2 linked regions of the Homo sapiens genome follow. The protein of the gene in region 1 purifies or fractionates together with the protein of each later gene. This does not show direct contact. Each region holds a gene or a part of one and is shown in the gene's direction. Other genes may lie near its edges.

Evidence for each region.
Region 2: the proteins of MSRA (region 1) and SUMF1 purify together in Homo sapiens (affinity purification with mass spectrometry; one large-scale study listed by BioGRID and IntAct). This does not show direct contact.

The regions. Positions count from the first base shown.
Region 1 is NC_000008.11:10,239,292-10,242,791, forward strand, and holds part of MSRA (mitochondrial peptide methionine sulfoxide reductase isoform a precursor), read left to right. Parts: intron 1-3,500. UniProt on the Homo sapiens protein: Has an important function as a repair enzyme for proteins that have been inactivated by oxidation. Catalyzes the reversible oxidation-reduction of methionine sulfoxide in proteins to methionine.
Region 2 is NC_000003.12:4,414,381-4,418,769, reverse strand, and holds part of SUMF1 (formylglycine-generating enzyme isoform 1 precursor), read left to right. Parts: intron 1-637; coding exon 638-760; intron 761-1,527; coding exon 1,528-1,642; intron 1,643-4,389.

The DNA.
Region 1 (3,500 bases):
GCTGGGACTACAGGCATGTACCACCATGCCCAGCTAATTTTTGTGTTTTTAGGAGAGACGGGGTTTCACCATATTGGCCAGGATGGCCTCGATGTCTTGACCTTGTGATCCACCTGCCTTGGCCTCCCAAAGTGCCGGGATTACAGGCATGAGCCACCACCCCTGGCTCGAAATATGATTTTAAGCCCATCCAATTGGCAAATATTTATATACTTTGTAACACCAAATGCTTGCAAGGGTGTGGCACAACAGAGATCCTCCTACACTGCTTATAGGACGATTGTACCTGGCAAACTCCTTTTGCCTACTTGTCCCTGTAGCAGTGATCCCAGAGTGCCCAGGCAATAGCTGTATCTTATAACTCAATGGAGTCTTGCTATATTCCCAGATAAAAGTGTACTGTTTTGGGGACTAGGACCTCTAACTCTACAGAGCCAAGAGTGTGGGAACAAAAGCTACAAAGTCTCCCAATGGGTCCCTGAGATAGTAAATGAAGTCAATCCTGTTTCTCTCCTTTGCTTTCCAAACACGTGTATTATTCATTTGGGGAACATGGTGTGTCCCTACCTTTGGAGTGTTTGATTCAGTGTCCTGGAGTCCGGCACCCACCTGCACAGTTTGTTCACTGAACTGGTGCTGTGGCTGTGCCTTGGGGCTATTCCAGTGCTTTTTCAGGACGGCAGTTCCTGGTGACGTGCAGTAAAATAAAACAGGTGGAAACCAGCTGTGGGCTCACTGCTGCATTTTCCTTGCTGCAAAGTGAGTTGCTTGGTCTGATGGATGTTATTTAGGGGACAGAAGTTGGCCAAGACCCTGAAGGCAGGAAAGTCAAACACGTGCCAAGAATACATGTATGTGAGTGTAAGAACACATCACTGGCCCTTTCAGCATGGAAGGGGCCCGGTGTAATCCTTTGCCACCTTATGGTGGGTTGGTCCTCTCAAGGAGTGGTGCTGTGTGAGGCACTTGGTGACAGTCTCTGTTGCTGGCCATTTGGACATTTGGTGGTGGCAGTAGCTAGGTGGACCTTGGTGAGCGGGTGTGCATGCTGTTGGGCCATGTGTAACCTATCTCTGCCATTGTGGCCAGTTCGTTCCTGCATCCATTACGCAGGTACTAGGGTAGCCAGTGAAGACACTGGCTGGCATCCCCTGGCTGGGCCCCTTTCCATGCTTTGTGGATGAGTGCCTCTTTCATGGTAGATGCCCTCTGGCTGGCATTATCATGTGGTAAAGAGATCTTCATGCTGCATACTCACTCCCACATGTCCACCTATGTCTCTCTACCCCAGATTTCCTAATTCTTCCTCTTCCAGTCTTTGTGTTTCTGGCCTCTGACTAGGCAGCCAAGCCACTTGCTGCTGCCCTTGAGTCCACAGCTGTCCTGAACTTGGGCTATTCTTCCCTCTCTGAAGGAACCAGTTGGGAGGATTTTTCCCTTACCCCTGTCTTTCCTGGCCACTCTAGAGTAAGGCTGCAGTGGAGCTGCCCTGCATTTCCAGCCTGCACCCATATAACAAACCAACCATTCAACACCCCACCCCCCGCACCCCCATCCCCCAAATCGGCCTTTCTCTCTGCCCCCAGCTGGTTTTACAGGATCGCCACACAGCCGTAGGTGCGAAGTGAGGGAGGGAGTTGGTGCAGCCTGGTGGGTGCTGGGGGAGTCTGGCTTCCTATTCGTGCAGCTCACGCGTGCCCTCTGGTCCTGCTTGTGCATGATTCCCGATGTACAACTTCCTCTTTATGATAGACTGTGGCTGTAGCCCCTTGACCTTATAATCTGGTGGGTCTGATGGGACTTACCTTTTGATGGGAAATTTCAGCCACATCATCCCCTAGTGCTCCATGGCTGCCATGGTGTGCACTGTGCAGTGTGCTTCATTATCACCCATGTCATGATCTTGAAGTGCTTTTTCCCATTAAACTAGGCTTCTTGGTGAAATGGTCGATTCTGGGACTGGGGTAGGAAATGTGCAAGGTGAGTCTGGGACATCCTGTCAAACCAGAGAGCAAAGAAGCTATGAGACAACTGAGGAGAAGGAGCCAATTTGAAGAGGGTCTCACTGGCCAAAGATATGACTGCTGAAGCTTACATGAGAGCAGTCATTGAAACGATCAAATATGTTTAAATGAATATGTTTGTGATGATGTTTAAAAAACTCTTCGATTAGCCTGGGAGATAGCAAGTTCGTCATCTTGAAGACACTATGTAAATGGATGAAGCAAGCATTTATCTTCCCTGTCCCATGTGAATTGTACCACTGAGTAACAAAGTAGTAGCTGAGGGGAAGCTTTTCATTATAAGGTATGAAAATGAAGTGATAGAATTAGAAGATCACTATTTTGCAACTCTCCAGGAATTAATACATCTAGGCATTGAGCACCCATCAATGCTAACTAGACATGAAAGAGACAACTAGACATTTTGTGCTTTCTAATCAAAGACCATCCATAGCCCCACCTCTAGTCTTGCCAGAGGATCAAGTCTGAGTCTGATGAAGCCTCTGGATCCAATTGTCAACTTGCAGAAAGTTGTCCTCTGAGGACGGTTGTGTGAATTGAATTGCACCATGAGAACACAGTCCTCAGAATCCACAGTGTGAGAAACTGAACAGGTCAAGTAGACTGTGATCTTCAAGGGATAAGGTCAAAGGAAAAGAATGGAGACAATGTGTTGATTAAAATGACTTAAAGACAGCCGGATGTGGTGGCTCACGCCTGTAATCCCAGCACTTTGGGAGGCGGAGGGGGGCAGATCACCTGAGGTCAGGAGTTCGAGACCAGCCTGGCCAACATGGCGAAACCCCATCTCTACTAAAAACACAGAATTAGCCGGGCATGGTAGTACGCGCTTGTAATCTCAGCTACTAGGGAGGGTGCGGCAGAAGAATTGCTTGAACCCGGGAGGTGGAGGTTGCAGTGAGCCGAGATTGCGCCACTGAACTCCAGCCTGGGTGACAGAGGGAGACTCCATCTCAAAAAAAAAAAAAGAACTTAAAGACGTATCAAATTTAAAAAAATGAGCAAGACTATAATGTCAGGGGTGGACACTTAGATGATAAAGTGTAAGAAACATAGGAAGTGATTACTGTGAAAGTCAGATAACGGTTGCTTTTTGGGCTATAAGGTTTCTGTTGGGATTGGAGTGTAGCACACAGGGAGGCATGTCTAGGGTAGATGGCAAACTTCTGATTCTTGACCCAGGTGGTGGTTGTAAGGGTGTTTGCCTAATAACAGTGCATTGAAATATATGTTTGTTTTGTGTGGTTTTTTTGCATCAGTTTTGTTTTATAACAAAAGGCTAAAAATAAGTATTTAAAGAAAATAGTGCATACTATATTTTATTTGCTGATATTCATAATGATCACCAGATTATTGAAATTTATGAGTAATTTTGCTATAAATAAGCCTGTTTTCTTTGTTTAAACACACACACACACATTTTCACACTCACACCTTCAAAGCCACATAATAGAATGTTTAGCTTAAACCTGCAGC
Region 2 (4,389 bases), on another chromosome or scaffold:
AGAATTGAAAGCCAAGGGTCACAGGTTGGGTTCTCTGGAAACAGAGGCTGAAACAGAGTTTAGGATGCAGAATGTTAGGGCCCCACACCTGTAGAAAGCAGGGGCCAGAGCAGGACTGGGCAGAGGGAGAAGTCAAAGCCACAATGCAGGTCCAACCAAGCTCCACCCAACACAGGGGCCTCTAGGGTGTATATGGCCCATAGGTTGAGCCACTGTAGGCTGAAATGGCTGGCTCTGTATGCCCCTGCTGTGGTTGGTTAGTCACTGGTTTCTCTGAGATGGCTGTCAGCTCTGCTGAACCCCAAAGGAGCTGAAAGCTCCTGCTGGCCCTCCTAGCAGCTGGAGTATCTCCGCATCTGCCATACCAATGACATTCTGTGGGAATCCGAGCCTACAAAGTGAAGAAATGTTTTGAGTCTAGTTCCCAGTGGAACTGTAACCCATTTGGGAGCCTGGGTTGTCAGAAACCGTTGGTGGAGCATGACAGATGTAGCATGGCTGGGGTTTGACTTAAGGACCAGGATGACCTCAGTGTCACAGATTGAACTGAGGGGGATTATGGGCGCTTTGCTGAAGCCAGCTCCTGCTTCTTGTTCTGATTGGTGTCACTTTTCATTCTACTTTTGCTCTTCCCCAGGCCGGATCATCCAGTTCTCCATGTGTCCTGGAATGATGCGGTTGCCTACTGCACTTGGGCAGGGAAGCGGCTGCCCACGGAAGCTGAGTGGGAATACAGCTGTCGAGGAGGCCTGCATAATAGGTATTTAGAGGATCTCATTTTGCCTGACAATATGTTGGTCATTTGAACAAACAAACAACAACAAAAAACTCCATGGAACTTACTTTGGTTAGAAAGTTAATAACGACAATAATTCTTTTTCTTATTTTTCCACGAAATTACTTAGAAGACACTGGAGAATGGGTCACAAATCTTTTATCACCCCTAAACCAAGTGTCTGGCCAAGTGGGCTCCCTCCAGCCCCAAAGCAAGTCTTAGCAATTCAACCCCCTTGAGTTACATATCACTGCTTAGAACTTCTTGGCAGACTGCCCTGCTTTTAGCATTTTCTTATTTTAGGCATCTCCTGAAGCAGCGGTATGTCTCTGCTTCTAGAGCCATGAGACAGAAAACTCATGTTGGGTTCACATCTTCTAGGAAAGGCTCCTTAAAATAGCCCAGGCTTTATAAAAAAGTGTGGTGTGGTGGTGCCTGATCACACTACCATATAAGTCCAAAATGAGGTCTACTCTCCCAGCTTTCTATAAGTCCTTCTTTTAGTTTTGTGATTTATTTCAGGCCTCCTGAGTACCTGGGCAAGACTGAGGCTGTTGTGGACGTGACATGAGAAGTTATAAGGAAATTGAAAATAAATCCTGATTAAAAGCTTTATTTATTTATATATATATTTTAACTGGCTCACTCAGAACAAGCAAGCAATGTTCTCTTTTTCATTGCATCCCTTCTCTTGACTTTCATCCAAAACCTGTGCCTGTTTGACAGGCTGATGCCTGTGTCTCTTCTGACAGACTTTTCCCCTGGGGCAACAAACTGCAGCCCAAAGGCCAGCATTATGCCAACATTTGGCAGGGCGAGTTTCCGGTGACCAACACTGGTGAGGATGGCTTCCAAGGAACTGCGCCTGTGAGTAATGAGACCTCTGCAGGAGGGTGGCAGCTGCTGAGAACTGAGGCTCCCAGTAGACATGGGGTGAAAGGCATTGCTCACTTTGTGACTCACACGGTGTTCCCTTCGTGTATGCATTCACTGTTGCACGTAGCAAATACTAATAATTAAACAGATTTTCTTTTTGTATAATGGATTTCCCTTTCTGATTCCATAATACTTACTGTAGATTATTTGGAAAAATGAGAAGACTATAAAGGAGAAAGCTAAACTGTCCTGGAATTCTACCACCCAGAAATAATACCTGTTAGCATATTGGTGCATTTCTTCCCCATTTGTTCTCTGTGTTGATGATGCTAATAATGGCGTGTAGTTATTGAGTGCTTGCAATGTGCTGGGCATTGTGCGCCAAGGCATTTGCATGAATTGTCTCATTTACTGTCCATTCAACTCTGTAAGGTAGGTACTATTATCCCCATTTTCCAGGTGAGCATTCTGAGGCACAGAGAGGTTAACTAACTTGCTCAAGGTTACACAGCTGGAAAGCGGCACAGCTGGAATTTGAACCAGGTCGGTTTATTTCCAAAGCCCATGCTCTTAACTACCGTATTTGCCAGCATATGTGTTTCTGGTGTATATGTATCATATTTTTTTACATATTGCATTTAGGTAAGACTGGATACAGTATTTAAAATCCTACTATTTTTTCCTGCCTATATCAGAAACGTTTCATCTGTCATTAGCAGTATGCCACAAATACATTGTCTTTCAGCAGCTGGATAACCTGTCATAAATAAACCCCAATGTATTTACTGGAAACAGGTTATTTCTGTTTTTTTTTTCTACAGTGAACATCTTGTACATAAATATTAACCTACGTCTTTGATGATTTTTGAAAGATAGATTAGATTCCCAGCAGTGAAATAATTCAAAGTCTAGAAAACTTTCTGGGTAAGAGTTTCAGATATATGGCCAAACTGTTTTCCAGAATGCTTGGGGCATGTTTTCCTCTATTGGTGTATAAGAAATCTTTTCTCACCGTTCTTTTGCTGGCATAATCATATACTCATAAAGCCATGTCTTAGTCTTAGTCCCTTTGTGCTACTGTAAGAAAATACTACAGACTGGATAATTTGTAAACAACAGAAATTTATTTCTTGCAATTCTGGAGGCTGGGAAGTCTAAGACCAAGGCAGCAGCATGATTGATGTCGGCTGCATCCACCAGAAGGGACTAATGCTGTGTCCTCCCCTGGCAGAAGGCAGAAGGCGGGCAAAAGAGCACTCACTTCAACCTTGAGCCATTTTATTTACTTATTTATTTATTTATTTTTGAGATGGAGTCTCACTCTGTCACTCAGGCTGTAGTGCAGTGGTGTAATCTTGGCTCACTGCAACCTCTGTCTCCTGGGTTCAACCAATTCTCCCATTTCAACCTCCCGAGTAGCTGGGACTACAGGTGCACACCACCACACCTGGCTAATTTTTGTATTTTTAGTAGAGACAGGGTTTTACCATGTTGGCCAGGCTGGTCTTGAACTCCTGACTTCAGGCGATCCTCCCGCCTCAGCCTCCCAAAGTGTTGGGATTATAGGCATGAGCCACCGCACCTGGCCCTTTGATGATTTTTTAAAGATAGATTCCCAGCAGTGAAATGATTGAGTCAAAGGTTAGAAAACTTTTCTTGGTAAGAGTTTCAGATATATGGTTGAATTATTTTCCAGAACACTTGGGGCATGTTTTCCTTTATGGGTGTACAAGAGTTCCTTTCTCACCATTCTTTTGTTGGCATAATCATATGCTCATTTGAAATGAGCTCCATTCCAAAGACACAGGTGATGGCTTTTGTGGCCCTCATTTGGACAAGACCGTGATAATCATTTCTTTTATTTTTCTGTCTGTTTTTTTTTTTTTTTTTTTGAGATGGAGTCTTACTCTGTTGCCGAGGCTGGAGTGCAGTGGCGTGATCGTGGCTCACTCCAACCTCCGCCTCCTGGGTTCAAGTGATTCTCCTGCCTCAGCCTCCTTAGTAGCTAGGATTATAGCTGTGCACCACAATATCTGACTAACTTTTGTATTTTTAGTAGAGACAGGATTTCGCCATGTTGGCCAGGCTGGTAGGTGATCCTCCCGCCTTGACCTCCCAAAATGCTGGGATTACAGGCATGAGCCACTGCGCCTGGCCTGTGATAAGCATTTTTGATGAACCAAACGAATGATATAAGTGCCTGTTCATTTTAACAAAAGGCCATGACAGGGTTTTCTTGGACAGTTATGCATATTTGACAGCACTTGCAGCTACAGTTTCTTTTCTATTTAATTACATGAGCTACCAAGGAATATAGAGCCATTTACTCTTCTAAAATCAGTGTACCTTTTCAAAAAATACAATGTTCAATATGAAATAAGGACACTCTACAGATGTTTAGAATTGGAATATTTGACTGAAAGTTCAGCATATGTGTGGGAAATTGACCTGAAGAAGTTGCCATGGAAGTTACTAAAACAGATTAGAACATTTACTGGGAGTCCTAAAGGAACCAATTTGACAAACAGGACTAGAGGAGAAAGCAAGCAAGCCAGCCAGAGAGAGACAGCTGCCATCTGTGTTTAGAATGAGTCTTAATGAGATCTCTATCTTATGGCAATCGTTTACACGTAGTATCTCAAGTCCACCTAAGCTGCTCTTTTGTGTCCACATGCTCTGGTCAACTGGAGCAGGAATTTAACTTTGATAATGAGATGGACTACAGGGAAATAGCTCCC